Regions from separate parts of the Homo sapiens genome. Here region 1 is linked to region 2. A link means that fine-mapping ties the variant in region 2 to the expression of a gene that starts in the linked region. Tissue or cell type: spleen. Region 2 holds a variant in brackets; the other region holds the start of a gene. All regions are shown on one strand. Distances are from middle to middle.

What was found. PIP is the estimated chance that this variant, and not a neighbour inherited with it, causes the effect.
Region 1: C13orf42 starts here. The variant in region 2 is fine-mapped to the expression of C13orf42 in spleen (GTEx, PIP above 0.99).

What each region holds. Positions count from the first base shown.
Region 1 is chr13:51,103,770-51,120,390 of GRCh38, forward strand. C13orf42 (chromosome 13 open reading frame 42) reads right to left here and starts at 7,505. Exons shown (of 4, transcript NM_001351589.3): 1 at 7,027-7,505. The coding sequence starts at 7,440. RefSeq lists enhancers at 6,763-7,962, 8,647-9,846.
Region 2 is chr13:51,033,299-51,049,919 of GRCh38, forward strand. It overlaps the pseudogene GUCY1B2. Among named protein-coding and RNA genes, the nearest start is that of C13orf42, 70 kb to the right of the region's middle. The variant C/T (reference allele first, on the strand shown) is at 10,253.

The DNA.
Region 1 (16,621 bases), 70 kb after region 2:
GTGCCATAAGCCAGACACAGAAGAATGAATATGATTCCACTTATGTCAGGTACTAAAATGGGCAAATTCACAGAGACAGAAAGTAGAACAGAGACTACCATGGACTGGGGAAAGGGGGAAATGAGGAGTTCGTGTTCGATGGGTGCAGTTTCTGTTTGGAATGAAAAAGTTGTGGAGATGGATGGTAGTGATCACTACACAACATTGTGAATGTACTTAATGCCACTGCATTGTACGCTTTAAAATAGTTAAAATGGTAATATTAAAATATTTTACTTTAAAAGACTGTTTCATATTTAAAGAAATAATTGTCAAACCTTTTATAAAAACATTCTCCTGATTTCTAAATGAGGTACTTTGAGAGGGTCCACGATCTTTTAAGGAATTCGTATTCTAGGGTACTACTAACAATACTTTAATAAAGTGTCCTAAAAATACATTAATTAGGGCTTAATAATCCTTTGGATGAATTATTATACACTTATATAAATGATAATTTGGAAAAGCTCATGGGAGACTAGTGTGAAAGACCCTGGTTATTATCTGGCTATTAACATTTTGAAGGATATCTAGTAGTATGCACTTTTACTTTTAAAAAAATTGATACAAAGTCATTCAAAGAAAAGCATTTAGTACATGGAGCGTGGTGGCTCACACCCGTAATCCCAGCACTCTGGGAGGCTGAGGTGGGCAGATTGCCTGAGTCCAGGAGTTTGAGAAAAGTATTTAATTTCTTAAGAATTTGTTAACTGTAATAGACTTCATTACCCATAATCTGAAGACACTAAAAGGCACTCATTTCAGGAACCATGAAGTGCTGTGTGAAAATGGTAAAAGTTATGTTACATTTATTGTACCACACTAAAATAAAGCTTAAATTCGTAATGAAAATGTTTCCAAATTAGATGGTGGTGAAGATTACACAATACTGAATCGACTAAAAACCACTGACTTGTACACTGTGAAAGAGTGAGTTTTATGTATGTGAATTAAAGCTATTATATTAAAAAAAAAAAAAAAGCCAAGCTAAGAAAAGTGATGTTTATGAGTAGGTGAGAAAAGAGAGAAGTAAAATAACCCAAGGGCTCGTCATAGCAGGAGAAGGCTGCAGCTTGAAGAAATTAACAGGAACAAGCAAATGAGACAGGCACACACAGAGGCTGATGCCAGTCACATCCCATACGTGACCCTGGAACAAACTCCACAGGGAGCAATCGGCTGTCTAACATGCTAGGATGCAGGGTGGAGTGGAAATAGCAAAAAACACAGCAGGACAACTTGTTACTTTTCACAGACATTTTTCTCTCCTGGGGTGAACCAATTCTTCGGAGGATTTTGACAAAGGCCATTGGGAAGGGTGTGTGATGTATCCATACCTCTGGCATTTGAATTCTTCCCTGGGCTCAGAAGGGGCTGGCAGAAGCTACTGAGCTCAGCTAAGCTGCCAATCCATAGTCTCTCACTAAGATGCAGTTCAGGACCACACCCTGTGTGGTTACAGCTGGGGCTCTGAGAAATCACCATAGGAATTCTGGTCTTGCTCTCTCGCAAGACCGACTACCCCCATGAGGACAAGGACTTTGTCTTCTTCACCAGCATCTAGAACAGCTCCTGACACATAGTATGTGCTCAATCGATATGTGTTAAGGGACAAGTGAGTGATATATTAATAAACTGTTACTAAAATATTATTAAGGGCATCACTAACCACATCACACAAGACTCCCTAAGTCAAGTGCCATATGAGATATTTTGAAATTCAAAGCCAGGGGGAAAATCTCACTCCCCTAAGCAATGGGTATGGTTCTTCTCAGATCATCAGAATTTTGAAACAAGCCCAGCTCTTTTTATCTTAGCTTCCAGCAAGGACAGAGCCAAATCTAAGGCTCATCTATGGCAGCTGAATTAGCTTCTATGATCTGCATATTATTTTGAGTGGTCTTGATTTTCTATGATTTTTTTTCTCTCCTGATTTTCCAATTTCTGGTGCTACTTAACAATTCTGTATGCTCTTGAATCTTGTATGTTATACAAGATCAAAATACGTTTTCCAGTCAAAAGATGCTGTAGATATATTGACAGTATGAGTTTCGACATGATACAGAAGCTAATTCAGCTACACAGAAGCTAATTCAGCTGCCATAGATTCTTCATCTCAGATACTTTGTAGAATGAGCTGGGAGATATGAAAGTATCTTGTTGAAAAATGATTTCAGGACATAATACCTACCCATCATGAAGTTCCGATTGTAGCTGTGCTTGCACTGTTTCCTCAGTTCTTTTCCTAGTGTGTACTGAGAAGTGCAAAAGTAGATGATATACAAACTCAATATTTCAATGCTACAGAGACCTAGAGTAAAACTGGAATCACAGGTAGCCATGTGAAAAGAAGTCAAGATGGAGATAAATTCCATCCACGGATTGTGGAAAGAAAACAATTTAAAGCATACCTTCTGGCCACTTCCTTTCAGCCAGGTTTCTCTTGAAGAAAAGAAGCCCAGTCTCTCCCACTTTGGGAGGGCTTCACCCTACACAGAATCCACGTGCAGTATGACGCAGCTGCCTCCCTAATGACTCTCCCTGGCCCAGGTGTGCAGGATAAAACAGCCTTTGCAGTACACATCCTAAGGTGCACACTCTTGCATCTTCTAGGTTATACAATATCAAAACATGTTTTCCAGTCAAAGTGGATACATTGACAAGGGTGTGAGTTCTGGCACGATACAGATTGGGATCAAATCCTGGCTTTCTCTTCGTCAGGAGCATGGCCTTACACAAATCTCTTAACGCCCCCAAGCCCCAGTTTTCCCCTTTATAGAATGAGGCTAATAGCCAACAGGTCAGGTTTGGAGGGTGATTAGAAGTCAGGAATACAGCTGATTGCATGGGAGCAGGGGAAGTGGGTGTAGAGGAGAACATCATTGCTCCTCCTGACTGGCAAGAAACACCCAAGGTGCCCAGAGCAGGAGGAGGCTTGTCCTGTTGGTTCAGAGACTCTACATTCCTTGACAAGACACACTTCAAACATGCCATCCTTCTGCCACACACATTATGCCCTGGGTTAGAAATTCTAACCTTTTAGCACCTAAACAATGAGTCCCAAACTGCAGCTCATTCCCAACACTGACACAAAAACCCTCACGTACGGATTTTTTTTGTTGTTTTGATTTTAAAATGTTGCAAAAAGTGTATTTCATTCATTCATTTTTATAATGACCTATTCTGAGGGAGGAGTACATTGCCACAGGGCCTGGCAGAGACTCCCACCATGCAGGGTCCCAGGAGGGGCTCCCAGACCCACCCGAGGCTCACCTCGCTTCTAGTGTGTCCTGACTTCCTCCTCCCATCGACCCACATGGGTGGTCTTCTAGGCTCTGGGTATCTCCAGGGGGCTGGGGTAACAGACCATTTGGTACCCTGGCCTTGGATGCCATTCACATGTCAATGGGACCTGTTAGAAAGCCTCATTCCAGAGCATGAAAGCCATATGTCTTGATCCAGTAATGGCTTGTGAAATCAAGTTACTGTGTCATGACAATTTTTTTAAAAAAAAATTAGAATAGCATAGAATGCTTTGGAAAACATCAGAGTGCTAAGCAAGGAACAGGAGTAAGTCTATTTCATAAAACTTTTGTTTCGTTTGTGTGTTTGGGTAAACTGGGTCAATATCCAAAATATGTTTCTTACTGCAATGGATTCTAATCAAAATAGTTTAAAAGCCACTATCTTACCACAAAAGAGGGACAGACAAGGGAACTTAGGTCCTGTGGCCAGGCCAGGGGCTTGCATCCGGATGGAGGGAGGGAGGGCAGCAGAAAGGGCCTGCCATGGTGCCCTGGTGTCACAGAGAACACTGCTCCCTCCCTATATGGAGGCCGGCTCTCCCCTCTGTATGGCACAAAAGACATCAGACTTTTAAAGGCTATAAAGCATCTACAAATGATTGATAGTATTCACTTTTATGCTCTGGAGATAGAAAAATGAGAAAGATACTGTTTCAGCTTCAAGCTCACCAAGTTCACTGCAGTCCACCAGGGGAGACGCACATTTTAACAAACCACAGTAGGATGTGATGAAAGCTAAAATAGAGGTGTGTTCAGACCAATGCCGGAGAAGAGAAGAGGCTAATTCTATAGAGGGGTATATTCATTTCCTAGGGCCACTGTAACAAAGCACCACAAACTGGGTAGCTTCTGTAGCTTAGAGCTATAGATCTCACAGTTCTGGAGGCCAGAAGCTGTCCGCAGGGCCATGCTCCCTCTGAAGGTGCTGGTGAAGGGTCTGTTCCAGGCCTTTCTCCTGGCTTCTGGTAGGTCCTTGGCTTTTGTCCGTGGCATTCTCCCTGCATCTCTGTGTCCTCACATGGCCATCTTCTTATGAAAACACCAGTCCTATGGGATTAGGGGCCCACCCTACTCCAGCATGACCTCATCGTAACTAATTACATCTGCAATCACCTAGTTTCTAACTGAGGTCACTATCTGTGGTACTGGGGGTTAGGACTTCCACATATACATTTTGAGGAGATACAGTTCAACTCATAGTAGGTAGTCAGGGGAAAGAATGGTGTTTTCCCTAAACCTGGAATGTCAGCAGAGCTTTCTCCCAAAGCATGGGGTAACGGCATTCCAGGGCAAAGGATTCCTTCTGGTCCCCTGTCCCGGCAATGCACAGAGACCCAGGCAGCCATGGGCCACCCCACCAGCCATGAAGCCTGAACCCATCATTTCACAGGCAGGCCCAGCATACAGCTGTTTCTGTCAGAGCCATGGGGAAAGACAGCAGCTGAAAAGACGGCTAAGAGCCTCCTGTATCCAACATTTCAGAGTCAGTGAACGCTGGAGTAAGTACCTGGTATGTGCTAGGAACAATTACGTGCAGGAGCCTACTCCTCACATTATCATTTCCATTACTACCTGACAGAAAAACAGACCCAGAGAGGTGAACTTCCCTTAACAAAGGCACACAGCTGGTAAATAGCAGAACTAAAATTCAAATCTTGGTCTGATTGACTTCAGTGTCCTTTCAAAACTCTTTCCTGATTGCGCTGTGGTGAGAGGCATCTCCGAAGGAGATCCCTACGTTATATCAGGCCCATGTGCCTCTGCACAGCCATTCAAAGGGCTAGAACTGGTCATTCTGCTTCTATTCCCTCCATCTTCAGATAGCTCAACAAGGAAGGGAGGTAGGTCCTATAAGAGAGAGCTCCATTTGCAGAGAAATGTAGTACCTAGAGGAAATCTAGCCAGTGCCTACTACCCCAGAATATCCAAGCTGGAAAGGAGTCCAGAAACCACTGCAACCCCTTCTGTCATCAGAGGTGGCTGGCCCACAGATCTACAGCTGGCTGGCCACAGAGTCAGCACCAGGACTCGTGACTAGGACCCTTTTTTATGGGCCCCCAACACTGACATACTTTTAGAGTTAAAATGATTATTTAAACTGCTCCCACCTGGTATAACATGCAGACAGTTGAAACCAATTGGGTTAGGCCAAGCCCTAGAGATTTGATAGTGGGCCAGTCAGTCATTCAACATTAATGGAGTTTGCACGGCCTACAGGACACTCTGGGGAGAAAGCAAGGAAGCGGGAGACAGGCCTGCTTCAAACATCTCATCTGGTCATCAGGAAAATGACTGATGGAAGTATACAACAAAACAGCCTTAACCTACGGGCATTAGAAATAAATAAAAGCTGGCTGAGTTTGGCGACTCATACCTGTAACCCCAGCAACTTTGGGAGACCAAGGCGGGAGGACTGCTTGAGGTCAGGAGTTTGAGACCAGCCTGAGCAACAAAGCAAGACTCCCATCTCTACAAAAAAAAAAAATTTTAATTAGCCGCGTGTGGTGGCAGGTGCCTGTAGTCCCAGCTACTTGGGAAGCTGAGGTGGCAGGATCACTTGAGTCCAGGAGGTTGAGGTTGCAGTGAGCTATGATCATGCCACTGCACTCCAGCCTGAGCAACAGAGGAGACTCTGTCTCTAAATAAATACAAGTCTGAGGAAATAAAGGAAAGAGTAACTGAATGAATTGCCGGCTCATAATTAAAATTAGGTGACCTAGCACCTAGAGGTGGGTCACTGAGCCTCGGTTTTCCCTTCTGTGATACTGAAGGAGTTCCTCCCCACCTACTGTACTGGCTTTATTGTGACGCTCAAGAAAAGTTGGTATATACAAAACACTGCAATAAGCATAAACAAAGAGATAAATGCAAATTATTTCTTTCACTCATTTCATGCTTGTGACTGTCTGGAGACCTCCAGTGCCCAAAGCCATCCGGGAATCTCCCAAGAGACACAGACTCTCTCCGTGTCTATGCCTGAGCCACCACATGCCTGGTCTGAGGTACAGATGGAGGAATTTTCCAGTTGTTTGGCTTGCGTGGGGCTAAGCACCTCAATATTTGAAAACATCTAGTCATGTGATGATTTCACTTTTCACCAGGATTTTTAGATGTGACAACAATAATTTTTTAAAAACCAACAATTTGTTGAAAAATGATTTGCTGTCATCCAAATGCCATGCAAGCATTATCTCACCTATAACACTGGGAAGGAATTGATAGATGTGCAATGCAAATATGGTGCCGCCTGACACCAAAACCCATGTCTTCCCCACCGAGCTGCTCTGTGGACACCACTACCTGCTCCTTTTTGCTTCCTGGGTATTAAAAATAAACATGGATCAAGAAACTACCAATCAGGCACTATGCTTATTACCTGGGTGACAAAATAATCTGTACACCAAACCCTTGTGACACACAGTTTACCTATATAACAAACCTGCATGTGTACCCCTGAACCTAAAATAAAGTTAATAATAAATAAATGAGTAATAAACATGGGCTTAGCCACCCTTCCCCAGGCTGGGGATATGGCCGCATAAAGCATCTGAGGACTATTGCGCCGCGGCTCAGAATGTGTCAGATTAATTAAGCCATGCAGAGGTAGGAAGAAGCTTTCAAACAGTTGCCCAAGGCTCTCAGAAAAACCCTCATCTAAATTGTACTGCTCAGCAGCACTTACCTTTATTTCTTTGGGAGTAGACCGGACAGGAGTCTTTTTCCCTCCCTTGGAGGATTTGGAGGAGGTTGAGGAAATCCCCTGGGTGCGGTGGGGCTTCAGATCACTGAAGCTGCTGAGATATTTTTTGCGCAAGGCCAGCAGCTCCTGCAGGTACTGCAGGCAGTCCTGGGTGCGCGAATACATCCACGCCCGGTCCTCCTCCTGCCGCAGGTAGTACAGGCTGGTGTCCATGCTACTGGTGCTTTTGTACTTCTTTAAGGACTCGCTGAATTTCTCCCCGTGGTCCCCGACCACATACATGGAACTGCTTCGAATCAGCTTCACTGCGGGGCTGGCTCCTTCGTAGAAGGGGCTCTCGGCCGCCGTCTTTCTCTGTGGGCTGGAGTTAAAGATGGAGTGGATCTTTCTGAACATAGTGCTCGATTTCTTTCTGTGGGTACCTTCCAGCTGCCTGTGCTGCCGCCACTTGATCTAGATGCGGGGAGAGAAGCCGACATCCAGGCCTCGCACCATCTGCCTTCCAGGAGGCCTCTGATCTCTAGGATCCCAGGGAGCACCGGCTTGATCAGGTGGGTAACCTGCACATCTCCCATGGGGGATGTTTACATCCTATAACCAAGAGGCCATAAACAACCCGAAGATAGAAGGTGGCGCACTGTGAACTTAAAAATGAGTGCCCTGGCTGGCTTTATGAAGCATTGAGTGCAAATACCTTCAGTGCTCTCCCGTGGAAGGCCCCAGCTGGATGAAGAAAGTGGGACAGAGCTTTGCCTGCTCAGTTATTTTCTTTCCTTTTCACTTTCCATCGCTGGCCATGGTCTCACTCAGTTTGAGTTGATCTTGGTGTGAATTTTTACCTTTCCACCTGGGCTGAGCTGACTCCGGTTCTGAATTCTCTGAATCCAAAATGAAATTCTACTTAGCAGGGACAGCCCTTACCCAAAAATCATGTGTTGCTCAGGGTAAAATCTAGTCCCCCGAGATGGGCCAGGGTGGACACACCAGGGCGTTGACAGGAGCTCGCAGATCCCCCCGATAAGCTGGGCTCTGAGCAGGCATCTGAGCGTCCTGGAAGAGCCTCGCCCTGCGGTAATGGACCTCACAGCCGTTACCGGATAGCAGCCCATTGTGGAGGCAGGAGGAGGATTCAGATATCCGGACCACGACTTTTTGCACAGAAGCATCAGTGAGCTGAAGGGTGGCCACATTTGTGGGGCAGACACTTTCTTTAGCCCGAGCACATTTTTAACTTAGACTAGTTAACATCAGACATAAACTGTTTTTTCAAGAGGGCTGTAGGAATCTATTAGAATTCCAGAGATGTTCTCTGTAGCATTTTTCTCAGGCAGATGCTAAACATTGTTATTTTGTTCATTCTTCTATGCAGTCTATTTCTCTCCTAGACTACAGTCTGAGAGTACAAGCCTGCACCAGTCTCTAGGTCAGGCATTTTCTTAAGCTATGAGCTAAGAGAAAGTATGAGCCCCCAGAAATTGTATGTAAAGCATTACTGAATGAATGTATTAGCATGGTTTATTTTTGCTGTTTGCTCTGTGTGTGTGTGGGGTGTGTGTGTGTTTTAAGAGAAAGAAAAGATTCACGGTTTTATCAGATATTCAGAGGTCTCTGATGCAAATAAAAACATTTTTAAATGTTTCTATCCTGCATCAGAACAATAACGATACTTTTCTTTGTATGACTGTAAAATATCATTATAAATGTTTTCCTGTTGAGGGCATCCTCTGCCTGTGGCATTCTAAGCACTGGGGTAGCACAGCCCCTCACATGTGGAGCATTTCAGCTTCACAGTTGTAGCATGCTTTAGGGATGATAAAGCATCTCCACACATACTAACTTATTTAATATTTGCAGCTTCCTTGGAAGAGAAGCATTATTTCCATTATCATCTTTAGTGGTCATCAATTCACAGATGAAGAAGGGGCGCGCTGGAGAGGTTATGAGACTTGTCTGTGGTCTCAATCAGGCGAGTGCAGAACCAGTCCTCAGACCCAATTGTCCAGCTTCCAGCCCATTATGCTGGTCCCAATGCCCCCTCACTGCAATGAACTCATAAAGTCACCGAGTTCCCAGGTATCCAGGGGAAGTCTCTCTCCAAACCACTTCCCTACCTTGACTCATGCATAATATCAAAGCACCCGGGATGGGTAAGTGCTGACTGAACTTCTTCTCAGAGGTAGCCACAGGCTATGACTACACAGCCTTTCTCAGTAGCTTGTGCCTGTGGGTTTACAATTACGCTTATTCTACATGGATTTAGAGAGTTTAAATCAATAAAAATGAAGTCTACCTCCATATCCAGAATGCCACAAGCGACCTAACCTCTTGATCACAAAGGGAATAAAACTGTCTTCTACATTCTCCTTTCTTCACTCCTACCTCGTGCTGGATTCTTCCCAAGGGTCAGACCTAGAAAGAAAATTGAGATAAAATTCTACTGACATCAACCTGCAGAACATTTCGTGAACACGAAATGGACAGGACATTAAGCAGCAGCCATGACCCAGCAGCTGACTGCTGTCAGTCACCTCCGACGCCAGTCCTGTCCTGAAGCCGCCTCCCTCCTGGAGCTCCTACTGAGTTGAGTGAGGGGAAAGAATGCTTTCTCCCTACAAAATACTCGTCACCTCTGCTGGTGGAGGAAATTCATCCAGAATAGTGACTGCCTTTAACGTATCTTACTTAGATTTTCTCACAGCCTCAGCTATAAGAAACGGGTGTGAAATCACCTTGTGGTTTTCCAAAGTGTATTTTGTGTGTGTGTGTGTGTGTGTGTGTGTACGTGTGTTTGTGTTTCAAGTAGAGACAGGGTCTTGCTATGTTGCCCAGGCTGGTCTTGAACTCCTGGCCTCAGCAATCCTCCTGCCTCGGCCTCCAAAAGTGCCTGGATTACAGGAGTGAGCAACCATACCTAGCCACAAAGTGTATCACAAAGAAACTACAAGTGCCCATCAAACCCCAAATCAGTCCCCCCAGGCTTGACTCTTTTTACACATTGTGGAATGCGGACAAACATCTAAGCAGGGAGAGAGAAGGGCCTGCATCCTCTCCCCCAGCCTAGCCCCTCCACATCAGCCCCACTGCCTATGTGCTTCTCACTGGGCTCAGACCAGATTTCCTCTTCCTGGTGGTGTCAGAGCCTTGAGGCTTGGCCAGAGAATCTGCATAAAGTGACTTGTGTAACAAAACTTGCTTTATTCCAGAATTTCTCAAATGTAAAGTGCAGAACCCCAGAGTGATGGCTGAGCAGTCCAGAGGATTTGCCATGTAGCAGTGCTGGGCTGGGGCAGCCACAGGCAGCAGGTGTAGAAGAGCTGACTGAGCCTCTGCCTGCTCCTAGATGAGCCTGGTCTTGTGGTGTTGCTCATGACTGGAAGGGCAGGCCAGGATGAGAATGAGAGTATGGGCCTTACTCAGAGTTTGAATCACAGGTCAACTACCTACCAGCTTAAGAAAGTTATTTAAACCTCTGAACTCTGGATCTCTCACCTCCAAAACTAGATACCACCTATTTCATAGGGCTGGTGTAATGATTAAATGAGATACTATATCCTTTGCCCTACATCTTCTCATTCCTCCCTGCACCCCCACTCTGCCTCTGGTAAATACCATTTTATTCTCTATCTCTGTGTATTTGACTTTTTTTTCTCTTTTTTAAGATTCCACATATAGTGAGATCGTACAGAATTTTTATTTCTGGGTCTGGCTTATTTCACTTATCATAATGTCCTCCAGGTTCACTTGTGGTGAGTGGCAGAATCTTCTTTTTTAAAGCTAAATAATATTCTACTACAGATAGATGATAGATAGATAGATAGATAGATAGATAGATAGAGATAGACAGACAGACAGACAGACAGACAGACAGACAGACAGACAGACAGCTTCTTGATCCATTCATCCATCAGTGAACACTTTGGTTGTTTCCGTATCTTGGCTATTGTGAGTAATGCTGCAATGTGCAGATATGTAGGATGAACAAGTCTAGGACTCTAACGTACAACATGAGGAGTACATCAAATAATAATGTGTTGTATTTGAGATTTCTGCCAAAAGAATAGGTTTTAGGTGTTCTTGTCAAAAAAGGAGGGAGATGGATAACCATGTGGGATGACAGATATGTTCATTTGCTTCACTGTAGTAACCATATCACTTTGTATATCAAAAGATCATGTCATATACCTTAAATAAATACAATTAAAAAACAACAAAAATAAATGAGATAATAGAGAGCACTTAATATGCATATTTGCTCAATCATAGTAATTATTACTTATAGGAATATAAAAATATGATTACTACTACTTCTACTTCACAGTTCCCAGCATATAGTTGCCAAGCTATTATTCCAGGTAAATATTTGGAATCCAATTATAATTCAAGGGGCCTTTCATCCTGCAATATTTGTAGAGATCACAGGCTCAAATGGGCCATCCTTAATAATATTCAGCTAGAAACTGCTAGTTTTACCCACTATCCTGAAGAGTGCTAAGTTTCCCTAAGATGTTCATTGGTGCCCCCTATCGTGACTAGCACACCTGCTTACGGGGCATTTGACCAGGCACCCTGTCCCTTTCAGGCATGGATTCAGGTGAGCACCCCATCATTTTCCTCCCTACAGTTGGGGACGTTGCCTCGTATCATGGTGTAACCGGGGATAGTCTGTGGCACACACCTCTCAAGGTCATGGTTCCTTTAATCCCACCAGCCTGCAACTGTACTTCATCTAGAGTCCCAAATCAAAGAAAACAATCAGCACCTTGGTCCCTAATTGCACATCTAGAAATCCCCTCGACCACTCCCCTGACAGGAAGGTGACTCTGAGTCAGTCCTTCCAAGAGGCAGGGAGGTGGGGGTGATGGGGAACGAAGGAAGAGCACAGAAGAAGAAGGGGACGCTGAGAAAAGGAAGAGATCAAATAAATGTGTTGAATATTGAATGAAGGGTAAGATTACAAAGTTCGACAACGTGTATCCCATGTCACGAAGTCCAAGTCCATTTGCACAGTGTATTGGAACATTTAGCTTTCTGGTTGCACTATGAATTCTGAGGAAAGAATTTTCCCTGGAGACCAGCTTCCCTGGCTCAGACAGCAAGGTCCTGTGCTTTAGATCTTTGACAGATGAAGCACAGTTCCCTGGGGAAAGAGCAGCTCCAAATCTCCCTGGGCTCGGCCCTCCACATATGAAGACCAAAAGCAGAATAACACATCTCTACACCATCCCTTCTTACTTTAACATGCTTGGAAACCTCTAATAAAAAAAAAAAAAGTCCTTGTAAGCAAACATTAGATCCTCTGAGGTTTACAAGACTGAAAATGTACTGGTGCTTGAGTACACAAAGGGCTGGTGGCGGGACTATATCCTCCTTTAGAAGGCGTGGCCCTAATTTGGGAGCATCGTGTACATTGCTGCCCATCAGGCAGAAGGGGCACGTCTGACAATGGGAGGTAGGGTAACCCAGCTAAGCCAAGCTTGGAGATGAGTAATGAGAGGCTGGGTTGGAGAAAGTTGGAAGGGAAGGGTGAAGGTGGCAACAGGCAGTTAAAGGAGGGTCTTAAAGGCCAGTTCAACAACTTTGGATTTAATTCTACAAGGTGCCTGTTATCAGACCTCTGGGAGCCCATAAGACATTTTCACTCAATTTAGAAAAAGTGCTCTCTCCAGGTGAAGGCCAGGTAAGCAGTCCCCACTGGCTCCCTTGGCAGGTGCCTGGGTACAGTGTACAACCCACACAACAGTATATGGTGACCCTGGCTGGTTAAAAACTTAGAACAGAAGATGATGTGGCAAATGGAATTGTGAGAAAATTCCATTTAGGAAACTTAAGTAGGAGCTCCATGTGATTCAAGAAAGGCTAATTATTTGTTTATCTATTACTATGTACAAACCATTCCAAGACTTCCCTGGCTTAAAATAATGATCATTATATTTGCTCACAAATCTGCAATTTAGCTGGGCTTCTGTTGGATGTGCCAGTGGCACTTATGTGGCTGCATTCAGTGGTGGGTTGTCTGGGTCTAGGCACAAATGGGGAGCCTCTCCCTCTCCACATGGTCTCTCCAGTGAGGTGGCCGGAATACTTAAATGGATGCTCAGGGCATCCAACAGTTCAAAGGTGGACACGGCCAAGCCTTCAGGCTGAAACTAGGAACTAGCACCCTGGTTTTCCTGCCCAATTCTATTGATTTAGTCAAATCACAGGACCAACTCAGATTAAGGGGAGGGGACTACACAAGGGTGTGAGTACTAGAAGAATGGCTCATTGGGGCCACAGGTATAGTAGACTGCCACATTTCCTTAGGAAGCTAAGATGGCCATCCAGGTGGAAGTAAGGAGGACGTCATTGGACAGCAGCCAGTGAACAGATTTTTCTAAGAATAAGCTCCAAATTATTTGTAGTCAGCTTTGAGAATACTATATATCCTAGTCAGTTTATTTTTCTAAATGTATTCAGCAAAGACTAATAGCAAAATAGATTATAGTGCCCAAAATTGAGTTTCATAAATCATTGTAGGAATAGATCTCATTTTCCAAAAATGTAAAAGGAAAGTGAATAATTAGGAGTGGATTATATAATACCTTGGAAAGACAAATTCAGGGACTGAGCCTTATCTTTAATCATTTTAAAGTGATATACTGCAGCATTTTATTGGAACTTTTAGAAAAAAGATATAGTCTTCTCATGAATGCTTATGCTTCCTTATCAAACGTTTACATGACAATCAACAGAAAAATTGAGTGTGAATTTCCAAACCCAAGGTAGAAGGCTGAGACTGATGGTACTTTTGGGGTTGGAGTAAATAAAATATCTGCGGTCCAGTATTTTTTTCACATTCTCCTGCACCTACCTCCTACTTACCACTCTTCCCAGACCTTCCTCTCCCCTCCTATTTTTTTCTTTTTTCTCTAATTTAAGGCTATCATATTAGAGTATCAGTTTGGCTTCCATAACTGAAATAGGAATATACATATTTATTTTTCTCTTGTGTAACAGTGCAGAGGAAGCTAATCCAGGGGAGATGTCTCTGCTCCACGTGAACACTCAGGGACCCAGGCTCTTTCCATGTCATTGCTCCCTCACTCCCTAAGTAGGTTGCTCTTGCCTGCATGGTCAAAAGTGGCTCAGAAGAAAGTATCCTTGTTTCAGCCAATAGAAAAATGGGAAGGAAAAGGCTTTGCACATTCCTTTCACTTGTAATCACCTCCCGTTGACCAGAATCTACTCACAAGGTACCCAGAGCTGCATGGGGAGCTAAGAAATGTGGTCTTTTGTGGCATGATCTTGTGTCCAGTTCCAACTTCTGTTGCTATAGCAGCTCTGGGGTCAGAGGGAGGCAAGCAACAATCTCTGATAGATGGCTCAGTTTCATTTGTGGAGTTAGGAAGGAGAAGGGAAATAAGATGAAGAAGACATTTTCTTCATCTGGACCTTGAGTAGTGACATTGAGGGAAAAACAACTTTCTAGCTTTTCACAAGATCAAAGTCTTCCTATTTATCCCCTGACAGGGAACTGGTCTGACTGCCTCCTCCACAACAGTCCTCCAGAAGACACCTGGAGAGGGGCACGACAGGCCTCCTACCTCACGCTTCCTCACATCTTCACCTCCTCAATCGATGGAAGGACACTGATTGCTTTGTGGGGCTCCAAGTGTTGGGCCACCAGGCATTTGCTGTTGGATTAGCCTCAGTGAGTCTTCCCTAGAATCAGGAGTCAGTCAACACTGGGGCAGAGAGTGAAGCTGCCCTGATGGGGGGCTTTCAAGGTGGTGGTTTTTTTTACACAGGCAGCCTCGGCTATCTGCTTTCATCGATGAGAAGTGGTGACTCTTCTTCAGGCAGCAGCAAGAACTCAGAACATATTTAGGTGAAACAATCCCTGCACATAGAGTGACCATACATCCAGTTTGTCTACTACTTGTATATGGCATAATTATGAATAGCACCCCAAATAGATGATCTTGTAGCCTAGGGTGCTAGTGACACAGCCAACCTGGCCTTATTTGCATGCTTGGGCATACAGTATGCCCAGGGGTATAGTATGCCCAGGAATACAGCATGCCTAGGTGTGTGGCATGCCCAAGGGTACAGTATGCCCAGGTGTACTGTGTGCCCAAGTGTATGGCATGCTCTGGTGTATGGTGTGCCCAGGCATACAGCATGCCCTGGTGTACAGTGTGCCCAGGTGTACGGCATGCCCAAGAGTACAGTATGCCCAGGTCTACAGTGTGCTCAGGCATATGGCATGCCCTGGTGTATGGTGTGCCCAGGTGTATGGCATGCCCTGGTGTATGGTGTGCCCAGGCGTATGGCATGCCCAGGTGTACAGTATGCCTGGGTGTACAGTATGCCCAGGTGTACAGTATCCCCAGGTGTATGGCACGCCCTGTGGCTGCAAGCATGGAGTGAGCTGCAGATCCTCAAGTCATCAAGAGGAAATGAGAGGTTTCAGAACTGGTTCAGTCAATAACACCTGGGTGCACTGGGAACAGAGTGTTTGTTTGGAATTTAGTAACCTTCACTAAACCTGGTGAATTCACAGGTGATATCAGTGGGTGTGAATGGCTCAAAAAGAGTCCTCGTTTGTCTGATCAGCTTGTCTCTAGCAGAGCCAGAAAAGCATTGAATGCTTTCCTGCTGCCATGGCGTACAGAGTGAGAGGGGAAATCGCCAAGAGGTGGAAGCAACCCAAATGCCCATCAACAGATGCATAGATAACCAAAGGTGGTCTATACCTGCCATGAAATAGCACCCAGCCTTAAAAGGGAAGGAAATTCTGACACACCCTACAGCATGGATAAGCCTTGAAGACATGATGCGACGTGAAATAAGACAGACACAAAAAGACAAATACTGTATGATTTCACTTATATGAGGTGCCCAGAGTAATGAAATTCATAGAGACAGAAAGAATGGTGGTTGCCAAGGGCAGAGGAGAGGAGAAAATGGGAAGTTAGTGCTTGATCTGGACAGAGTTTCAGTTTGGGAAGATGAAAAGAGTTCTGGAGGCGGATGGTGGTGGCTGCACAGTGTGAATGTACTTAACGCCACTAAATTGTACATTTAAAAATGGCTAAAATGATAAATTTAAAAACAAATAGATTCCCAAGGCCCTCTAGAGGAACTCCCGACTCAAAGAGATCGGAGAATCTGGGAATTTTTCCTTTTAAAAAAAAAAGAAAGCATCCCAGAGGATTATTACCATCAAGGAAGTTTAGGAAAGTATTGAAGTCCGCGCTGATTTATAGGCACTCAATAAATGGTCACTCAATAATAGTTGCCATTGTTACTAATAATGTAAATGGTTTCATCTGTAGAGGTTCCACTTGAGAATTACAGTAATAATCATGGTTAATATTTGCAAGCACTGACTACGTATGCTGGGCTTTTACATGTGTCATCTCACTGAATCCTATAACTTTACCTATCAGGTATGATTATTGTCCCCACCACAGAGATGGGGACATTTAGAAGTGGACCTTTTTAAGTGATGTGCCCGGCCTCCTATATCTATTGTGTGATAGAGCCAAGATGTGAACGCAGAAGCTGTGTCACTGGAAGCGGGTATCCTTGCCGC
Region 2 (16,621 bases):
TCTCGGTGAAATATATAAGGCCTTAAAATTAAACTATGTTCTCTAAAGCAATAAACTATTATTATGATATGTATAAATGCTCTTTCACCTTTTCTTGTCTAAAAAATAAAAGAGAATCTAGGCATTTGAATTTCCAGTGATCTCTACAAACAAGAAACCCAAGGAAAGAACTCCAGAAGGATATATCCCAGTAGGGAAATTAGTTTCCTAACACCTCAGTCAGTCACCCATGGGTTAATCAGAGTTGGATGGTTTCCGATTCTGGCTCTTAGCCCTGTCAAGTCTTCCCTTCTGATACATGAATAACATGAATCTGGCTGCATATGCAATTTATCAGCTCCATCCTGGCCAGGAAACCTTAGGAGAGCTTTTGCAAATGCACTGAAACCTGACTGTTTTCCAGCCTTTGTTCCAATTGTAATGAGTCTCCAGGATTTAATTCCAAATCAACACCACACCCTATCTGAAAAGGCCATCCCTTCGGTTTTTGTGAGCCAGTTTATAAAAGTGGCCAGCAGGTGTTTCTTTTTCATTCTCTTCCAAAAAGAACTCCTGAGCCCACCAACACCAGGTACCAAGGATTCTGCAGATGGGAGGGTTCTCCTGCAACCGTGCCTCTGTTGGGGGAGGCGGGGAGCTGGCCCAGGACTGCCACAGCATTTGCTTCCTCTTGGGCAGCCAAGACCAGACTCAAGTGGCCTTACCTGATAAGAGAGTGCCAGGTAACTGTGGAGGGCATCCAGGTTTTCAATAAACTCCATGAGATTTCCTCCCAGTGTCCGTAGCATCCTGTCATAGCCAGACATCTTCAGAATTGAAAGTATTCTCCAAAGAGTTTCAGGATGGCTTCCATGGAGACACCTGTAGAAACCAAAGCATACCCCCTAAATAAAATCTCCTGGAGGTGTGTGTTGTCCTTTGTGTGGTCTTCATTTATTTCCAAAGGGTTCACATCCTGGCTGTGTGACACTATCGAGCTACTCTCTAAGCCGTCACTTGCCTCCTCGGTAAAATGCCAATAACCACATTGATGTCATGGGCCCTTGGGAGGAGCCCCGTGCAGCCTGGCACTGAGTAGGTGCTTGTGAAACATAAGTCTCCTTGACAAATACTTCCTCAAAGTCGAGAAGGGGATGCAGAGATGCTGTACCCGCTTAGCTGCTGAAGCCAGTGCCCAGAACAAGCTTCACTCTGGGTGGGGAGGGCGCGACCCTCCACGAACACTGCCAACACCTCCCACATCTTTAAATGTAACAGTCAGTCTCTAACAAGAATACAAGGATGCCTCTGAGAAATAACTAATACACAATGAAAAAACTATGCCTTCAAGGCTACAGGATCCTGATTTACCAAAAAGATGATACCAAATACTTGCAGTGTCTTTCCCTTTCTCTCCTGACCTCCCTGTGAGGCCCAGTGTTCCTGTTCCATTCTCCATAAAGATTTCTCTGAATTCTCTCTTCCTAAGTGTTGCATTTTTTTTTCTTCCTAATTCATGGTAATTCTGGAGAGAAGCAACCCGATCCTACACGTTTTCTGTGCTAAACACAGCATAGGTGCCTGATGAACACCTGGAGGTAGATTTGCGGCATTAGTTGGAGCTGCTGCCCACCTCCCCGCTCCCCAGTCTACACTGTTGGAATAGACAGTAAGCAAGTGTCCACTTTATGGGAAAGACAGCAAACATTTTAAAAGAATGTTTTATAGTTCTGACAACACACATTAATTACTGTTCTGTTACTCAATGTTTGCCCAGCTCTTATAAGGTAGCTAACCTTATTATCATGTCCTTTTTACAGCTGAGCCTGTTGGGGCTGAGTCATCTTTGTGAATTGACTGCAGTCACATAGAGTTGCAGAGGCCAGATTTGTTGAAGAGGCTCCAACTCTAAGTTTAGCACTTTTTATACCACATCCCCCAGCCTCTGAAGCAGCAATGAGAGAAGCAAGGAGTCTCCCCAAGGGAAGCGCTGCTTATGCGTTGGCATCATTGACACAGGAGACAGGGCATCCATCCATGCTGCTGGTCTGGAGATCCTGTGAGAAACACCCTCTTATTTACAATGGGGCTGTGACACATGTAAGTCCTGGGGGCTGGGGCAAATGTCTGTAATGCCCAGGTTTATGGAAGGCCTGAAGAGCTCACCATCACCAGTATCTGTGGTTGCATCCTTGAAAAACTCTGTGATGCTCTGGCTGGATTTGGAATTCACAGCAAGGGACATTCCAGGTCTCATGAGCTATCCAGGGCTAAATCCTACAGAGGACAGACGAAGGAGGTCTGGGCACTCTCCAGCCCCTGCTTGCTTCCTAGGATGGTCTGAAGAGCAGTTTCCCTACAGCTCATAGTCCACAGCCAGACCATGGGGCAGATAATTGTTCTGTAATCTGAGCAGGATAGAGTCCCCACTGAATTGGTCTAGTTTTGTCAGAGATGAGTTGTACATATTTTCCAAGATGAGTTATACATATTTTCCAAAAATTGATTAGTCGGATCTCAATCTAGACGAAGCTTGGGATGGTAGAGAAGCCAGTGGTAATGGCCTGTGTTAATTGCCTCCGTTGGCTTCTTTGCTTGTGGGTGCATCCTGGCCGGCCTCAGGCAGGCTTGTCTATACACTGGTATAAATTCAAGGACCACCTGCTAACCCCTAGGGGATCTGAGACAAATTCTACCAAGTTCCTTTCCAGTGCTTGAGTCTCTGGGAGGGGGACTGCTAAAAGGTAAACAGACAGATGGGAAATTGTCCTTCTGCTCTCCTGCTTCCATCCCTCTGTTACCTCTGATCTAGCTTATTCAGACTAAGAAAAAACAGCTGTGCTGTGCATCCTGGAGGCTGGAGCTCTGAGCAGGTGCATCCTGTTACCTGCCAGGAAAAGCAGGGGTCCCAGCGGCCCCCCTTCTCCCAAGAACCTCTGCCAGGAGGACTGGGCTGCGTGTAAGCCAAGCAAAGTTATATTCAAGTAAGAGTGGCAGCTTTGGGTAAAAGACTGCCTGTTTGACTTTCAAATCTTTAAACTTAAAAAATCCATGAAGCTGTTTGTTCCAGGCTCTGGTTATTTTGTTTGTGGATGCCCAGCTCTGTTAAAAGGAAAGGACATCTGGCTGAGAGATGAACTGTTTCCCAAACAAGGATCTTGGGTTTGAGTGTGGTGTTTTCCACCTGTAATGGGTTTGGAGCTTCTTCTAGAATTCTTAGTTGAGAATGCTTGTCCAGCAGGGAATAAAGGCCGCTTTTTTAAAAAAATCAGCACCTGTTTTAGTCTTTTATACAGTTTCACATCAGTGTATTTAAGATTCCAAGAACCCGCTAAGTCATAGGGGATCCAAGATATACAGGAAATGGTTAGAAACTGCAAGAAAGAACTAAACTAACTTAGGTGCCTTAAAATGTTTTTCTGATAGTGCAGGGGAGACTTTATACTATGCTTAGTATTCTTTAATGTAAGAAAGAAGGGAAAACAAGGAAATAATCATCTATCTGCCTACTTGTGCAAAATTAAACACCAGAAGGATAAACCTGGATCTATTGAGATTGGTTACCTACAGGACATTGGTAGGGAATGGGGTGGAAAGATTAGAAAAATTGTGGAGTTGGGGAAAATGACATTTTTCTGAGCATAACTTTTTGAACAGTTCTGGTTTGGGGAGTCATGTTAATGTTTCATATGCTTAAAATAAATAAAATATAAGATCAACAAGGATAGAGAAAACCCCTAAGATGGAGTACAAACAGAAACAAATTCACAGAACAGCATTTCAACAGAACAGTTTTGAATAACATAATCACCCAGGAAAAAAATTAACCCAGTAATATTTGAACATAGTATTTACACTACTGTGTCTTCAGGCCAAAAACAAAAAGAACTTTAAACAAATATTTTACTGTAGTTAGTAGGCTTCCTTTTCACAGCAGTGTGGGTTAGCAATTCTGAAACTATGTTCTGAACAAGTAAATATATTGTGGATAGTGGGAGCCAGGTTTTTCCCTATCTGAGAATGAAGTTACAATTATGGAAAGGGGAGGAATAGAATGAACCCTGTGCCTCTGGATTAGAAAATCTAACATAATAAGACAATGAAATCTATCATGGTTTTAGATATATCTATATTTTATATATCTATATCTATATCTATATTTTATATATCTATATCTATATCTATATTTTATATATCTATATCTATATTTTATATATCTATATCTATATATAGATAGATATATAGATAGATATAGATTATATCTATATATATTATATTATATCTATATATTATATATAGATATATATTATATATATAGATATATATATAGAGAGAGAAAGATGGATGTATGTGTGTGTATGTGTGTGTGTGTGTGTGTGTGTGTGTGTGTGTATATGACATGTATTTTCCAGCACTGTCCACTAAGAGGGCCTAAAAGCAGTGATATCCCAGTAGCAGTGGGGTTGCCTAATGTCTAGATCTTAGTTTTTAAATGCTCTTCTCCTGTAAAAGGAATCAGGGCCTTGGAGAAATGGCAGATTCCAGGGCTGGGGCAGGGAAAGGATGAGATCAGCCTATAACATCTTGTTATGCAAGAAGGTAAAGAAGTGATCAAAGAATGATGGGGACATGTCAAAAGGACACAGGGGCCAGTTTAGGGTGGCTCTCACTGGCTAACTCTTGCACAATTTGAGCATCAAAATAAATAATAAAAGGAAAGGATTACAGCCTGTTTTTAAAAAATAAGAATCACAAATCTACATTGATATAAGTAAATAAATACATGGGGGAGAGGGGGAAATTCTTCCTTACAGAAACTCAATGAATAAATACAAAAGGAATAATATTCTTAGAAAATCACCATTTGACTTCCATCATAAGTATCAATTCAGACAAGAATCACAAATAAATACTAAAACTATGAAAGAGGGAGTTTGAGAAATGACAAGATATTTGCATAATCTGAAAGTATCTCCTCACAAGGTACTAATTACAAAGGGAAAATGTAACTTTACAGTGGAGAAAGCTGGCAAATTCTACGTAAATCAAGTGATCAAAGTTAGCCTCACTAATAATAGGACAGATCAATGAATGGAATATGCCTCCTGATATGATAAACTGGGAAGGAAAAAGATCACGTCTGTGATCTTCCTGCCAGGAAAGCATAACCTGAATTATATCATGAGGAATATCAGATAATCCTCAATTGAGGGACATTTTGCAAAATGTCTGACCAGAACTTTCCAAAAATACCAATTTTATAAAACATAAAGAGACTCAGAAACTGTTCCAAGCCAAAGAATACTGAAGAGACACGATAAGTGACATGATTCAGGATTTTCTTTTGTTCTAAAGGACATCACTGGGTCAACTGGAAAACTCTCAATAAGGTCTATAGATTAGATAATAGCACTATATCTATGTTCATTTCCTGAGTTTGATTGTTGTACTGTAGTTATTTAAGAGAATTTTTAAGGACAAGAAGGCATCACATTTGCAATATACTAACAATTTCAAGAAAAAAAGTATAAATCTAGATATAAAGAGAAGGATAGACACTATATGGTAAAATGTCAACATTTGGGGAATATGGATAAATACTACATGGGAATTCTTTGTACTATTCTTGTAAGCCTTTTGCAAGTTTGAAATTATGTCAAAGTAAAAAAGATTCTGTTGATTGCTCTGAAAAGACCATAGGGAATCTTACATAATAAGACCGTAAAGACCATGTTTATCCATGGCCAGCTGAAATACAGCTGCAGCCCAGGCCTCTGTAATGTTATGAATTTTGTTAGTTATAATCAGGGCATTATCAGTACATTTTTAATGTCTTTATCTTGTTAGAGACTAATACTGAAATATTTATGGATGAAATTGTGAGAAACCTGGTAATTGCTTTAAAACACTCCAGAAAAAATAAAACTAGAAAAAGAGTGGAGGAATCAGATAGATGAAATAAGACTGGCAAAATATTGTTAATTAGTGAAGCTGGGTGGAGGGTATGTGGGCTTCTGTACACAATTCTCTCTACTTTTGCGTATGTATTAAAACATTTTTTTTAAATAAATAAAGGAGTTGAGTTTTTTTTGGTTGGTTGTTTTTTTTTTTGTTTGGTTGGGTTTTTTTCGTTTGTTTTTTTGTTTGTTTGTTCGGTTTTTTGAGACAGGGTCTCACTCTGTTGCCCAGGCTGGAGTGCAGTGGTGCTATCACGGCTCACGCAGCTTCAACCTCCCCAGGCTCAGGTGATCCTCCTGCCTCAGCCTCCTAAGTAGCTGGGACTACAGGTGTGTGCCATCACGCCTGGTTAATTTTTGTATTTTTTGTAGAGATGGGGGTTTTGCCATGTTGTCCAGGCTGGTCTTAAACTCCTGGGCTCAAGTGATCCACCCACCTTGACCTCCCAAAGTGCTGGGATTACAACACCCACCCAAGACTTTTTTTCCAGGAGGAAAATGATGGTCACAAAGCTTCTATGCTTGATTCCCCAGGTGTGGAGACCTCTAACAAGCTTTTACATTGGAGTGTTGCATGAACTCAAACTTTCTGACTTAACAAGCATGGGTCTTCTTTGTCACTGGGAAACATTTGCTTCTTGCTGGGTTTCAGCTCAAGGTACTGGAAAGAGTAGAGTTGGGCTGTCCAGGGCTGGGGGACAGAGAGCGCCTGTTGAAGCCCCAGTGAGGCTGGCAGGGACACCATAGCCACCAAAGCAGAGCCTCCTGGACAAACAGCCCACTCAGGGCCAGACTTGCAAGACCCCTGCCCACCTCCCGTCACCCAAGTCACAGGCAACAAGAGCTATTCCTCATGGCACTCTTCCTGAGTCACCCAGCAAAACATGTGCTCTTCAACAGGAAAGAGAAGTACATGCTCTACATTTGACAAAGTTTTCCGTTGAAAATGGGTAATTTTTCCCCCAAAGCGTTGGTATCCAAAGGATTACTCTTCAGATACCTGAAAAGAGCCAGAATCTCACATACTCTTTTTCTCCAATGATATCACTAATGTCAGGCATGAGTTAGTTTATGGGGAAATATTTTGGAGTAGGAGAAAGAGTAGTCTAAGAAAAGGAAAGAAACATCTGCCCATGTCCATGCTGTAGTTTGCAAGGAGGAAGAAGACTCTAAATTAGGAGGGTTGGGTTTCAGAAGTAGTCGTAAGTTTATACAGGCACAGAGAAAAAATAAACTGGAAGTCGATTAAGGCAGCTCAGGAAGGTGGTGCTCTGCAGGGATGAAGCAATTCCGCTGAAGCCTGGTAGAGAAGAAGCCTCCTGGTTCCCGTCAAACCTTGGAACAGAGTAGTCAGCCCTACCAGGGCCACAGCAGGGGGCCAGGGGTCTATCTGGTGGCAAGCAGGGGTGAGGGACAGGGCGAGGTACCTTGTTGTGTACCCACTCGGTGTCAGGCATTTTGCTCACCTTATTTGATTTCTTCTGTAGGACAGATGAAACCCCCTGGGTTGTTGTCCTACAGAAGAAATCAAATAAGGTGAGCAAAACGTCACAGGTATCATTGCTGCATTACCAGGGGAACATTTACCCCAGGTTACATTATCAGGAGCCGGTGTAGCCAGGGGGCTCACCCAGGTCCGTCTGATTCCAAAGCCCTTGCTCTAGACATTGTCGACTTCCCCTCCAGTCTGTGGGATTAAGCATCAGCCTTGGAATCAGCAGACCTGAATTCAAGTCTCCATTCGTGGCTGGTTGCACAGCCTGGGTTACTTGTCCCATCCTCAGAGGAGAATAGTGAAGAGCAAACGTTATAATGCCTGATTTCAAGACGTTGTCAATTTTGTGTTGTTCTTATTTTTAAAGATGTGAGTGCAGAGAGGCTTGCTGGCATTTGCTGATAGCTAACTGTTGAAACACATTTTACTGTGGGTGTCTTCGCAAGCAAAGTCTAGACGGACACAGCTGTGCCAAATGGCTGTTGTGTGTTGTTTTGAATTTTGTCGCTTCAGATCACTAATAACCCACTTACACACTAAGTAGGCACTTATTCATATACAGAACAATTCCTTATGCAATGCTCAACCTGCCATCTGGTCCCCTCCTGAATTATGCTAATTGGAAAGCACAGAGCTATGCAGTGGCAGAGCGGTCTGGAAAAGTCCCAGCAATTGCTTCAAGGTAGGGAAATTGCATTCTGAAGCCCACATGGAAAGCAAAGCCCTCACTAGTGGTGACTAAGCACACTTTTTCCCTTGTCAAAGGGAGGATTTTCAACTGACCAGTATATTTTGTTAGACAGTAAAATGTCCTTCCTGTAGCCTTTCCTTTGGATGGGTCTTGCTCTCTCAGACTCATGGGAGTTGGAGACATACAGAATCACGACGGGCTTCCTGGGGCTGTCCTGATTCCACATCTCATACATGTGTTCACTCGATTTTGCATCCCAACTTCTTGTTTGAAAAATGCATTCACCATACTCATTTACTCTTTCAGATAGATATAGGCCAATAGATGTTATGGAAATAAACTACAAGAAGAAAAGATTCCTGACATTCAAAGCTAGGCAGAGAGAAACCACAGTGATGTACGTTGGCTTTCGGTGGAAAGGTGATGTGGGCCAGCCCACACATTGGTCTGTAGACTGGCTGCTGCCTCTACACATGTTGGTTGGGTTGGGAATGTGACGGCAGTGGGGCAGGTATGTGATGGCATCTCACTGCTGGAGGTACTGCCACACCGTTTGATGTACATGAGCACAGACAGCCACAAAAATGGACTGGGGTGATATGATATATACAGAGTATTTCTTTCTGGAGATATACAAGCTGATTCAAGTTCTTATATTAGTCCACTAGGGCCACCACGACAAAATGCCATAGATGGGGTGGCTTAAACAACAGATATTTATTTTCTCAGAGTTCTGGAGGTCGGAAGTCTGAGATCAAGGTGATAACATGATTACTTGACTTATAGAGGGTCACCCTCTCACCATGTTCCCATGTGACAGGGAGTGAGAGAGCCAGTGCTCTGGTATCTCTCCTATAAGAGCTCCAATCCTATCAAGAGGGCCCCACCCTCATGAGTTCATCTCAACCTAATTATTTCCCAAAGGCCCCATTTCCAAATATGAATTTGGGGCATGGGGGCACAATTCAGTCCAGAGCAGTTCTTAGGTTAAAAGATATTTTTAGAATCTTGAAAAAGATCTGCATCCACCCTTGAGAGCATGAAATGACCAACTTTTCCTGTGAAGGGCAGATAGTAAATAATAAATGTTTTCGGCTTTGTAGGTCATATGGTCTCTGCGCAGCTACTCAGCCCTGCCACTGTAACACAAAAGCAGCCATGGACGATGTATAAACAAAGGGGCACGGCTGTGTTCCAATAAAACGTGACTTACACAAACAGGCAAGGGCCCAGATCTGGCCCATAAGCTGTATGTAGTTTGCTGACCACTAATCAGAGAGCTCAGAACATAATTTTTTTTTTTTTGAGACAGAGCCTTGCTCTGTTGCCCAGGCTGGAGTGCAGTGGCACGATCTTGGCTCACTGCAGCCTCCGCCTCCCAGGTTCAAGTGATTCTCCTGCCTAAGCCTCCTAAATAGCTGGGATTACAGGGGCAGGCCACCACGCCTGGCTAATTTTTTTTTTTTTTTTTTTTTTTTTTTTTTTGCATTTTTAGTAGAGATGGGGTTTTACCATGTTGCCCAGGCTGGTTTTGAACTCCTGACCTCAAGTGATCCACCCACCTCAGTCTCCCAAAGTGCTGGGATTACAGGCGTGAGCCACCGCACCTGGCCCATAATTTATTTTATTTTATTTTATTATTTTTAAGTTCCAAGGTACATGTGCAGGATGTGCAGGTTTGTTACATACATAAATGTGTGTCATGGTGCTTTGCTGCACAGATCAACCCATCACCTAGGTATTAAGCCCAGCACGCGTGAGCTAATTTTCCTAATGCTCTCCTTCCCCCCGACCCCCACAACAGGCCCCAGTGTGTGTTGTTCCCCTCCCTGTGTACATGTGGAACATAATTTTTTACCACAGCCATTTGAAGTGAACAGCAAAGCCTGTCTTCTTATAAGGGACAGTATCTAGAGGTACAAAACATAGAAATACCCCCATCCTTCCTTCAGATTCAACATTTGGCTGACATTTACCAAACACCCAGTATGTGCCATGCATGTTGCTAAGTGCCTTACATTTGTTATTTGATTTAATTCATTCCTTCCCACAACCCTGTAAGGTATTATTCCTTTTGCAGGAGATCAACTCTCAGTGAAATTCTAGCCCAAGGTCACACAGCTGGTGTGA[C/T]GGAAAAGAATCCACCCTCCATTCTCATTCTGGAATAACAACGAGATGTTCTTTCGCAGAGGGCTCAGACCAAATCAAGACTACACGATACAGCCACTACGTCCTTCTGCTGCTGGGATCCCTTGGAATAAAATCAAGAAAAGACTAAAGGTGGGCTTAATTTCACTACCCATTGTAAGCTTTTTTGCCGTTTTATTTCCTAAGCTCTGTCAAAACTCCAGATTTTCAGCTCAAAAGTAGTCATCTCTCATTACAGAATTTCCACCTAATGATTTGTATTCTTCCTGTGGAAGGAAGGTTACTAGATGCTCCTCTTACTTAGCTAGAAGAAAGGAGGTAATTGCAAACCACTGGACTTGCTCGTGGACCTCCTGCCCTCACTAGGATCACAGATGTGCAGAATTGTCAGCCACAAGGGCAGCACCTAGGCTTTGCCTATGTGGGGTGGACATATTAGGATCAAGAGGGGATCTGTCTGTCTGGTTTGCAAAAGCATATTTAACATCGTAATCGCATACTTTTAAAAAAAATTAAAGTGATGCTTAAGAAAACAAAACAGGTAATCTCTTTGGCAGGTGTGTCAAGCATAAAGGCTGACAGGTGACCCTCTGGGGTGGCTGTGCTGCTGCCACCTGTTGAACAAAAAGGCCATAGCTGGGGAGCAGAGCTGAGTCGAGAACCCAGGTCTCCAGGCCTGCAGCCCCTGGGAGCAGCACAGTGCTGTAAAGAGGACACATCCCGCTCTCAGACTCGAGCGCAGAAAGCTCGATGCTGTGTGCTTTTTGATAACCCAGCCCCACAGAAACCTCCCCTGGTGTTAGCTGCTGGAGAGACAAAAGGGCCTGGGAGTCCCCCCAAGACAGGCTGGACAGGATAGGGGTGAGGTTTGCAGGTATCACTGACACTTCCCAGTTCCTGGGCCAGCTTTGGCCTAGAATCTCTCTCTGTAAGCTTCTTTGGAGAGCGGAGCTGGTTGGTGGATTCGGGGAGAGGCCCAGCCGTGATTCTTGGGAAGCCACGTGAGCCCTGTCTGCCAGCTGCCTGTGTCCTCCCTCTAAGTGCTGCCGTGGTGGCAGGCTGGGAACTGGCTTTAGGAAGCATCCGGGAGGTGTTGCTGCTCTTGGCGCCTGAGTTCCAGGAGCTGAAGGAGCAAATGACTGTTTCACTCCTTGTGCCTTATTTCCAGCCTCAGACACAACCTTGGTTCTATCAAAAGATGCAGGTGGGAAGTGACCAGGGGCTAACATACATCTGGTTGGAAGTTGTTTTAACAACCAGTTGGGACACCAGATTCCTCCTAGCTATGATCACCATCACCTGCCAGGCCTCGTTGGCAACTCTGGCCCCTGCTTGTCTCTGTGGCTCCAAGAGAGCAACATGATGAGATGAGACAGCAGGTGGCCCAGAGTGGACAGGGGAAGCAGGTGGCCCAGAGTGGGCAGGGGAAGCAGGTGACCACCTGTTACCAGAGAGGACTCTGAGCACCACACACATCCAGCTTCCTCAGCCTCAATGACTTCCCCCTCCCAGCTTGGCAGAGACTTTGGGCCTCTCCTGGATATGGATCCCTGGAAGGTCTTCTGCATCCAGGAGATGACCAGGAACATGAGAAGAGATGTAGATATCAGTCACAGCGCCATGTGAAAGCCATGGGAAAAGCCCTCTCATCTGTCAGATCCAGTTGCCTGCAAGTAAAGCTGGCACTATCTTTTTAATCATCAGATAATTTTTCTGAAATCCAAAGGGAAGGGAAATAAGCTCAATACCTCACACGACACGGGCACTTTACACATCACTGCTGCGCTCTGGAGAAGCTGCCTGTCCCTGCGGGCTTAGCATTAGCTAGCTGCCCTGGTGTGTTCTCAGGCACGCCTGCTGGGCTGATGACTGTGATACCTGCTACTGGCTTAAACCTATATCATTTCACAAATTGTTCCTGAGAATGGCAAGCCAATTTGCTAGGCCCTCAGAGGCACCATGAAACCAACTCAAAACCATGGCCCCTGCTGCCAGACCCTCTGCAGGCTGCATAAGAGCCAGCTTGCACACTCCCAGGGACTGGGCCTAGCCTGACACTTCCAACAGGGCTATACCCGGTGCCAGGTGACAAGCATGAGGCCTGATGCAGCGTCTGAGTGAGATCATCCTTAAATGCCATCTCACACTCTCACAGTGACCCAAGGCAGCACCGCCTATGAGGAATGGGTGAAGGAAGTTCAACGGGAAGGGAAAGAGGAACCTCATCAAAGATCCTGGGTACAGAGGGGGGCTTCGGCTTCCTGCATAGATCCCTGGAGCCTGGGACGGTGGAGGCTGCCTGCCCCTCCCTCCCCTCAGGCCTGCCCTGGCTCATTGTGTACTCAGTGCTGGTGAGAAGGAAGGATAAAGAAAGCGAGGGTGTATTGGGTTGAATAGTGTGCCCCCAAATTCATGTCCACCCAGAACCTCAGACTGTGACCTTATTTGAAAAGAGAGCAGATGTAGCTAGTTAAAATAAGGTGAGGACATAAGGGATTAGGGTGGGCCCTAAATCCAAAGGCTGCTGTCAATATGAGAAGGCCACGTGAACACACAGGGAAGAAGGCCTGTGGAGATGGGGACAGAGATTGGGGAGATGTGTCTACAGGCTAAGCGGTGCCAGCAACTGCCAGAAGTTGGGAGAGAAGCAAGAGACAAGTTATCCCTAGAGCTTCCAGGGGAATGAACCCAGCCAACACCTTGGCTTTAGACTTCTGGCCTCCAGAACTGGGAGAGAATTGATGTTTGTTGTTTGAAGCCACCTGGTTGTTGGTACTTTGTTACAGCAGCCCAGGAAACACAAAGGGGAGGGAAGGAAGAAAGAAGAAAGGAAGGGAAGGAGGGAGGGAGGGAGTGAGGGAAAGGAGGGAATGAGGGAAGAAGGGAGGGAGGGAATGTTTTTTGAAAGCCTATTATATGCCAGATACCACATATGATATTTTCACATATATTTTCTCATTTAATCCTCCAAATAACTCTGAAGATTAGATCTTGTTCAACCAATGAGAAAACTGTGACTATTTAGGTCATTTGTCCTCGGTCATTAAACTAGAAAGAGGCAGAGCTAATTTCTTTTTTTTTTTTCTTGTTTTTTTTTTTTTTTTTTTGTCCTGTACCTTGTCCCCTCTGGGCCTGGGGAGTGAGCAGATTAACAAGATAAAAAAAATCCAGTGCTAATACATCCACAGGAAAAACCATCCTGGGAGGACACGTACATTGTCAGTGGGACCATCCACACATGGTCCCCCTCCTATGACCCTGTCAATGGCATTTTCATGTCCAGGCAGATGGGAAAATATGCGATGGAGAGCAGATCGGGGAAGGGCCCTCAGCACACTGCAGAGCACCCCACGTCCATTTCCAGGTAAGCACGAGTGTAGGTGGCATAGGCGGATTCTCAATGTTGTTCCTCCTGACACCCAGAGATAATCATAGCAGACCATTCTAAAGGTATTGCAACACCTGTAAAGCCAACATCGAAGCCAAACATGATGGCAGTGGTGCAGACGGTGCTGCTCATCATTTTTGTCTGTAAGAAGCCTAAGGCCACTCAAATGGAAAGGGTCATACCTGAGCCCTGTACTGGGTTAGAGTGCCCCTTAAAATTCATGTCTACCAGGAACTTGTGAATGTGACATTGTTTGGAAATTGGGTAATCAAGTTAAAATGATGTCATTTAGGATGGACCCTAAATCCAATATGCTTGATGTCCTAATGAGAAGATGGAAATTTAGACACAGAGACACAAATACAGGGAGAAGACAGCCACGTGAAGACAGAAGCAGAGGCTGGAGTTATGCCGCCACTAGCCAAGGAAAGCCTGGGGCCACCCGAAGTTGGAAGAGGGAAAGAATTTTTCCTGAGAGCCTTCAGAGAGAGCACGGCCCTGCCAGCAACCTGATTTTGGACTTCTGGTCCCCTGAACCACAGAGAACGAATTTCTGTAGTTTTAAGCCACCCAGGTTGTGATACAGTCGGTCCTCATTATTTGAGGATTTCATATTCACAAATTTGGCTACTTATTTATCTGTAGGCCCGAAATCAATACTCACAGAGCTATCAAGGTCATTCACAGACACAGAATTTCCACCGGCCAACATGAATGCTTCTAGCCAAGGTAGAACAAGGCTGTGCTCTATGTTCTTATTTTAGTTTGAACTATAACCAAGTGTCCTTCTTGCAGTCTATTTAGTGTCATCTTTTTCACATTTTTCTGCTTTTCTGTTGGTGATTTTGCTGTTTAGAATGACCCCCAAATGTAGGCTGAAGTGCCATCTAGTGTCCCTAAGCACAAGAAGACTGTCACATCCTTCCAGAGAACAGGCAGTGTTAGATTAGCCTCCTTCAGGCATGAGTTACAGTACAGTTGGCCAGCAGTTCAATGTGAATGAATCAACTATGTATATTAAATACGTATTTTTTTCACAGAAGCACACATGAAACAAAGTTATGCATTGATTGGTTGGCAAAAATCTTGTGACCAGAGACTTTCAGGAAACTAACCCTGTATTTCCCCTAGGAACAATGGTGCAGTATTCACTAATTCAGGATTGCAGCAGCTTTATAGACTATAACCAATGCAAATAATGAGAATCAACTGGGTTTTGTTACAGCAGCTCTAAGAAAGCAAAACAAGTTCTTTCATACTTACCCAGAATGTTGCAGGCCTCTTGGATGAGCTTAATGGTGATGACGTCATCATACATTGTGTAGGTCATGAAGGCATCTTGTACTTCTGCAGAAGTTCTGGAGGATAAATCGAGGTGCAGTGAATGCTCATCAGCTGGAGCTTTGCCCCAGGAATATATCCACTGACCCAGCAAGATATAATGTAACAATAATCTTCTTGATCATAAGGAATGTGAGACACTGGAGTGTTTGGGTGTCAACTCCTCCAAGAAGCCTTCCCTGGACCTCAGTTTGAGCCCGGAGACCCCTTCTCAAGTACCCAGGATAGGCTATGCATTTCCTCAACTTATATAAAGATTGTTGGTCTTACCCACTAGCTGGTCTCCTTGAGGATGAGCATTGTGACCTGTTTTTATCTTTGAACCCCCAGCAAGTGGCACTGTACTGAGCACATGTTCAGAACTTAATATATGGTAGTAAACTGGAACTCAATGGTCATAGAGTCTTGTTCTCTGAATGGTAGAGCAGCTGCTTGAGTTTCTCACTGTTTTGCAGTGTAGTTGGCTATGTTGCAGGAGTTATGGATGGACTTTAGTCTTCAACAGATAGCCAAGCCTGCTGAAAAGAGGCTTAGCCTGGGAGTCTGAGACTTGCACCCTTGGCTTGGCCCTTATGTGAGTCATCAAACTGTAGTTGGCAACTGAGTTAACAAATGGGGGAAGGAGGTTGGTCAGGGAATGCTTCTCTAAGAAAGGGAGATTTTGCTGAGACTGAAGGATGGAAAGGCAAAGAAGAGCCTTCTGGACAGAGAGAACAGGCTTCTAGGCAGCAGAGAACATGTTTGAAGAACAGAGAGGGGTCAGAGCATTCAAGCTTATCCAGAGCACACCATAGAATCTTGACACTGCGAGAAGTATGGAATTTTCTACATATCCAATTTTCTAAATGTCCAATTTCTTACTGCACGCTATTTCTGACTGCTGGTTTTCCAGTTTCTTCTTGAATGCTTCCAGTGACAACAAGCTCATTCCTTTGCAAGGCAGCACATTCCACTTACCAACTGCTCTCTTTGATGGAAACGTCTTTCTTATGTTCAAATGAAACCCCCTTCTGGGCCCTCATAATACCTCCTATTTATTAAGCATGTGCTTTTGGCCCAAGAGATGACCAATTTATTACTTATCATTCCTCGTACTGTTGAGAAGGCTGATGCTCAGAGGGATTAAATGTCTTGCTATGGTCACCGGTTGACAAGAGAAGGATCTGGGCTCTGAACTTCAAAGCCCACACCACTCCTGTACTGTGCTGCTGGGAATTTACTCACTGGCCTTAGTTCTACCCTTTAGGAAAATGCAGACTGGGCTGGTCCCTCCTCTGGATACCTAACCTTCTAATGTTTGAGGATCCTTATTCATCACTAAATTTAACTATCTCTTTATCATCTTTCTGGACTTCATCTTCCTCTCTGTAAAATGTGGCAATTATTATTACCTGCCCTTCCTATCTGCCAGGAGTGTTGGTAAGGATAAAACAGGATAACAAATCTGAAAGAGCTTGGGGAAAATGAGAACCACCATGCAGATCCTAGGAGAGCTGTGATGACAATGAGAACAAAGGGGCTGCGTAGTGAGTAGGAGGTGACCAGGGCTGGGGTTTAGGAGACTTTGGTTCCAAGCTTATACCTTACACAAATAAGCTCTGAGGGAAAACCACTTTCCCCCT